Linked DNA regions of Homo sapiens. The protein of the gene in region 2 interacts with the protein of the main gene of each other region in a pairwise test. Each region holds a gene or a part of one and is shown on either strand. Other genes may lie near its edges.

What was found. Proteins that work in one complex are often made in the same cells at the same time.
Region 1: the proteins of GRIPAP1 (region 2) and RAB4A interact in binary tests that used the Homo sapiens proteins (3 or more experiments, as listed by UniProt).

What each region holds. Positions count from the first base shown.
Region 1 is NC_000001.11:229,288,111-229,291,610, forward strand, and holds part of RAB4A (ras-related protein Rab-4A), read left to right. Parts: intron 1-618; coding exon 619-733; intron 734-3,500. UniProt on the Homo sapiens protein: The small GTPases Rab are key regulators of intracellular membrane trafficking, from the formation of transport vesicles to their fusion with membranes.
Region 2 is NC_000023.11:48,975,744-48,978,264, forward strand, and holds part of GRIPAP1 (GRIP1-associated protein 1), read right to left. Parts: intron 621-2,521; coding exon 498-620; intron 369-497; coding exon 275-368; intron 1-274. UniProt on the Homo sapiens protein: Regulates the endosomal recycling back to the neuronal plasma membrane, possibly by connecting early and late recycling endosomal domains and promoting segregation of recycling endosomes from early endosomal membranes.

The DNA.
Region 1 (3,500 bases), on a different chromosome or scaffold from region 2:
TTGTTTTGGGGTTTATTGGAGGGTGTATTGTTTTGGGGTTTGTTGGAGGGTGTTTTATTTTGGGGTTTTTTGGAGGGTGCTTTGTTTTGGGGTTTTTTGGAGGGTGTTTTTTCTTTGGTTCAATTTTTTTCCTCCTTTTCCCTTTTCCTCTGCTTTTCCTTCCACTCACTGTTATTTCTTTAAAATATTTAACCATTCAAATACAGTAGTTGAAACTGTCTCCACCTCATTACTTACTGAGTTCCACACCTGTCACTGGGCGTTATGCCCTTCAGAATGGTACGCTGGTATGTCAGCAGTCACCATCTGTGAGCATCTTAACAGTGCACAGTTGGATGTGGTTCGGATATGGCAGGGCTACTTTCAGGCATAGGTTTTTAAATGTATCATTTGTTTGGGGGTTTTGAGAAAAATCTTTATGTCTCTTTGAGAATAGGGGCTGTGTGTATTATCTTTAAAACTAAATGCATCTTCTCAATGGAATGTTGGAGAAATGAATGGCTAGAGTAATGTCCATTCCCCATTGATGTAACTCTTGGTTTTAGTGTCACTTGTTTAAATCTATAAGCCTGTTAATGTTCTAAAATTAAATATGCTGTTCTTGTTTTTCTTTTTTAGTCAAAGATGACTCAAATCATACAATAGGAGTGGAATTTGGTTCAAAGATAATAAATGTTGGTGGTAAATATGTAAAGTTACAAATATGGGATACAGCAGGACAAGAACGATTCAGGTAGCTTTTCTCTAACTTAATAAAAATATTTGAAAATTTGATTTAAAATAATTGATGATATTCTCTCAATATATAAGGTCTCACTCCCTCCCCAACACACCCCTTCCTTGTCCTAATCTCAGAAACTTCATTTTTGGAAACTTTGATTGACAAGACAGCTAAAATTTAGGTTAGCTCTCTGCAGCATGGATTACTAAAGAATACAGGAGGATCTCCGCGCAACTGCATTATAATTCGGAGGCTGACCCATTCTCAGGAGGATGTGGCACTGTGTATTGTACAGTATGTTTCTAGATTCAAATCAAAGCACAAGCTTGTTTTTCTGTGTTCCTTTTTTAAAGAAGAACTTTTTAAAACCTTGTGAGGGTTTGTTTTGTTTTACATTAACTAGAGCATGTTCTGATGTTTGATACACACTCCACAAAATATTCTCTCCACACTTTAATTACAATAGGGTCATAACTGAGGCTCAGAATGACTTCAGTCACTGCAAATGAGGTTACATGTTTAGTATTCTGTAACTACTAAAGCAAGAAAATAGATTAATATTTTAGTTGTGGTTTTTGCACAGATGCACAAAGTCAGAACTGATATTCATAGTTTTATAATTCAGTGAAATAAAATCCACCCCATTTGTAAACATTTCACTTGAAGTTGAGTACATGTCGTATATTAAATAATTGAAGTTTGGCTGGGCACAATGGCGCATGCCTGTAATCCCAGCACTTTGGGAGGCCGAGGCAGACCTCCTCACCTGAGGTCAGGAGTTCAAGACCAGCCTGGCCAACATGGTGTAACCCCTTCTCTACTAAAAATAAAAAAATTAGCCGGGCGTGGTGGCAGGTGCCTGTAATCCCAGCTACTCTGGAGGCTGAGGCAGGAAAATCGCTTGAACCCGGGAGGTGGAGGTTGCAGTGAGCTGAGATCACGCCATTGTACTCCAGCCTGGGCAACAAGAGCAAAACTCCATCTCAAAAATTAATTAAGTAATTGAAGTTCAATAATTGCTTCAAAAATACCATAACCACCTTTAATCACCATCATTTTTCTGGAAGCATTGATTAAACATGGTGGATTCAATTAGACATTTATGTCTTCCCTCTCAGAACCCCACTGAAATGTCTGTTAAGTAACTGAAATTGAAGTAACTCAAAAAGGCCAAGATTGAGTGAGTGCACAATTATGATTGAGAGATTTCCAAAAAAATCTTAAAGATAGGAAGTAGATGGTGCTCTGACAGCAGAAGGAGCTCCACCTTAAGTACTGTAATGGGGGAAGCCATTTCTTCCTCTGGAGTCCCAGAAAAGGTCAGGATTTGGAAGCATCAGGTTCTACAGGAGGTAGAGGTTACAGAGGTTCATGTTTACACACGAAATAAGAGGTTCAGTCTTTTACGTTGAAATGGAGTCTAGACTCAAGGTCATAAGGCCCACCTGAGGGCATGGGGTCAGGCCTGAAAAGAGGGAAATTAAGTGAAAATGAAAGCCTCTGGCCCCCAACCCACCTCCCCTACCTCTTCCCTGGTCGCTGGCAGCCAGGTGTGTATGTCCCACATAGGAGAAAGGAGCCTTCTCTGCAGAAAAATGAATAGTCAGAAAGGAAAGGCTTGAAGGTAGTGACATTTTGCTTTCCCAGTCAAACAGCCCAGTCTCTATCCAGTCATCTGAAAGTGAAACCCTCCAAGCCCACCTGCTCCACCCACACATAAAGAGCTTCTTTTAGACTTTTTCATTCCTTGCTCTTAATGATCAGGCAGAATTTTGAAGAAAGTTTCTATAGCAAAAGAGAGAGCTCAAAGTAAAGAAGCTGGAACTTTGAGGGAGTAAGAAAAACACACTAAAACCACAGTATCCTTAGGAAGAAGAGCAGAGATTGCATTGGAGTATGTAATAGAAACAAAGTCATACTTAAAAAGAGCAATCAGAATAATATGTTAAATAAACTCATGGTGAAAAATGGGAGAGATGACATAAAGAATCCTCCAGAATTAATCCAGAAGATGCAATGACTATTAGGAGTTCCAGAAGAGAGAAGAGCAGAGAGAATAATAGAAGAAAATGTTTCACTGAAGGAATGAGATTCCAGATTAATTGGCCCACCTAAAATCAAACATAGTAAGGAAAAAGTCCAGACCAGAGCGTGCCATGTGAAATTTCAGAACACCACAGATGAAGTAAGGAAGACCAGAAAGGTTCCAAGAGGGAAAAAGCAGCCACATATAAAGTGTGAAAAATGGAATTGCTTTGCACCCTTCCACAGCAACATTGGAAGCTAAAAGAAATGGAAGCATTGCCTTCAAAACTCAGGGTGAAATAATTCTTCAACCTAAAATTCTAAACTTAGCCAAACTGTAAGTGTGCAAGTAAAGGCTGAATACCAACAGATGTGCAAGAAAGAGGAGGAAGCCAAGATTATCTTTCTCAGAGACTTCTTAGAAATGTACTTTCTTAGAAAGTTTAGGAGGATATACTTCACCAGGACAAGGGCATGATCCCAGAAAGAGGAAAATGAAGCCAGCAGGAAGATCCAGCTCAGAATGGCACAGGTCTAGAGGGACAGTGAGGGAAGACTAAGACAGCAGTCAGTATGTGATGGCACTGCCCTTCCAGGAGGACCAGGGGAACAAGTGAGGGGCTCTGTAAGAGCTCACGACTCTGTCAGAGCGGGGAAGAAACAGCTCTGAAATTCAGTTTCCTAAACCTTTTGTAGAAATGAGAAGAAAGAAACTGTAAGATCCATGAGTGTAAGGGTTTTTGAGTTTTCTGTT
Region 2 (2,521 bases):
AGGAGAGGAAGATGAGGCACAGGGAGAGGAAAGGAGAAAGTGGACAGAGAGACACAATGGAGAATGGAGAGTGGAGAGATGACAGAGAAAGAGAGAAGAGGGAGGAGGCGAGATCAAGAGACAGTGCTTTCCTGTTCTCCCCTCCACAGGCCATGGTCTTGTCAGTAGCTTCGCTGAGTTCCGAGAGGAGAGGAGAGAAGCCGCAGCACAGAATGGAGAGGGAGGGCCAGGTGAAGGCTGGACCAGGGCTGAGGGCCGGGGAGGGGACACTGACCGATCCGGCTGTCCATGACGTAGGTCTCAATGATGGCGCTCTTCCGGCAGAGGTCCTCTGCCATGGAAGCACTGCTCACTTCCAGGTGCTTCACCTGCAAGATGGCCCAGCCCACCTGAGACCCCTCTACTGTACATGTTCACACATGAGGCGGGCCCGGGCAGACCCCACACCCACAAGGGCACTTCAAGTGGGGATGGGCAGGCAGGCAGGCAGGCAGCACCTTCTCCTCCAGCATCCATTTCTCCTGCTGTGTCTCTGCCAGCCGCTGAAAGAGCTCAGCCACTTCCTCATCTGACAGCTCTGCTGGCCGAGGGGGCTGGGCTTGAGGGCTGCTGGATAAGGACTGCAGGAAAGAGAAGGGGAGAGGCCAGCCCCGGGCTCAGCACCACCGACCCCAGACAGGTGTCAGGGACTGGGGAGGAGAACCAGGCCAGAGGTGGGTGAGAGAACATGGGCCCTGAAGCTGGGACTGTTGGCCCATCTTGGTACCCTCAGACTCTGTTTTCTCCTCTGCCTAAATGGGGGTAGAGAGTAACCACATCAGAGCCTTGTGGAGAGGATTGAAGGAAGATCCCAAAGCAAATGAGATCTAACTTTCAGCTGACAGGAAAACTGGAAGAGAGGGACATGTTAAATCATACCACCAGGAAGCCAGCAGAAAAACCCAAAAGGTAGCATACTTCCTGTGGGGTGACTGGGCTGGCCTCTTCAACAAATTGGTCTCAGGAAAAAAGGGACCGCACTAAAGAGATTTAAGGGCCATAAAACAACCAGATGTAACATGTGCTCTGAATCTGAATGCTAGTTTTCATAAAACCAGCAAGAAAGGACATTCTGGGGCCAACTAGAGAAATCTGGTTAAGGTCAAAGTATCAGACGACATGAATTTTTTTTTTTTTTTTGAGACAGAATTTCACTCTTGTTGCCCAGGCTGGAGTGCAATGGCAAGATCTTGGCTCACTGCAACCTCCAACTCCCAGGATCAAGCGATTCTCCTGCCTCAGCCTCCCGAGTAGATGGAATTACAGGCACGCGCCACTACGCCCAGCTAATTTTTGTATTTTTAGTAGAGATGGGGTTTCACCATGTTGGCCAGGCTGGTCTTGAACTCCTGACCTCAAGTGATCTGCCCGCCTCGGCCTCCCAAAGTACTGGGATTATAGGCAGGAGCCACCGCACCCAGCCAATGACATGAAAATTGATCAAATTGGGAAGGTAGAGACAACAGTTGAATAAAAAACAGGTTAATCTCATCTAGGTTTTAAAAAGAGAGAGAATTCTGGAAGGGTATGAACTAAGAATTTATTTTATTTATTTATTTTTTGAGATGGAGTTTCACTGTTGCCCAGGCTGGAGTGCAGTGGTGTGATCTCGGCTCATTGCAACCTCCACCTCCCAGGTTCAAGCGATTCTCTTGCCTCAACCTTTCGAGTAGCTGGGACTACAGGCACGCACCACCACGCCCGGCTAATTTTTGTATTTTAGTAGAGATGAGGTTTTGCTATGTTGGCCAGGCCAGTTCTCAAACTCCTAACCTCAAGTGATCTGCCCGCCTCAGCCTCCCAAAGTGCTAGGGTTACAGGCATGAGCCACCGCGCCCAGCCCTGAACTAAGAATTTATAATGGTGACGTCTGGATGGTGAAAATATTATTTTTTTTTGACATTTAAGGTTTTTTTGTTTTTGTTTTTTTTTTAAATAGAGTCGGAGTTTTACCACGTTTCCCAGGCTGGTCTTAAACTCCTGAGCTCAAGTGATCCGCCCACCTTGGCCTCCCAAAGTGTAGGATTATAGGGATGAGCCACCACACCCGGCCAGACATTTAAGGTTTTAAAAAAATCTTTGCTCATTTGTGGTTTTTAAAAAATGTACTACAATGAGCACATACTATTTGTGGAACAATAAAAAAGTTATTTCCAAAGGAAAGTGGCTGGTAAGGAGGCTGACATGACAGCCGGCAATAATAATTAGTGATCATTACAAGTTGGAAAAAGGGACCTTCTCCTTGGATGGTGCACCTACTATGAGCCACATAATTTATGGCACCAGAGAAGGGGGAATTAGCCCACAGATGATTAAACAGAAAGTCAGAGAGAGAGAATGACTGGCCTGTCCTGCATGTCGCAATCTGAATCCAAGTTGGTGGGCTTGGGGAAAAGTTGACAAGAAAATATGTGTGCTGCGCCCAAAGTAGGAGATGGGTTTAGGTGAGGAGAAAAGGGGAGGGGTTCTCAGATTTTTGGGT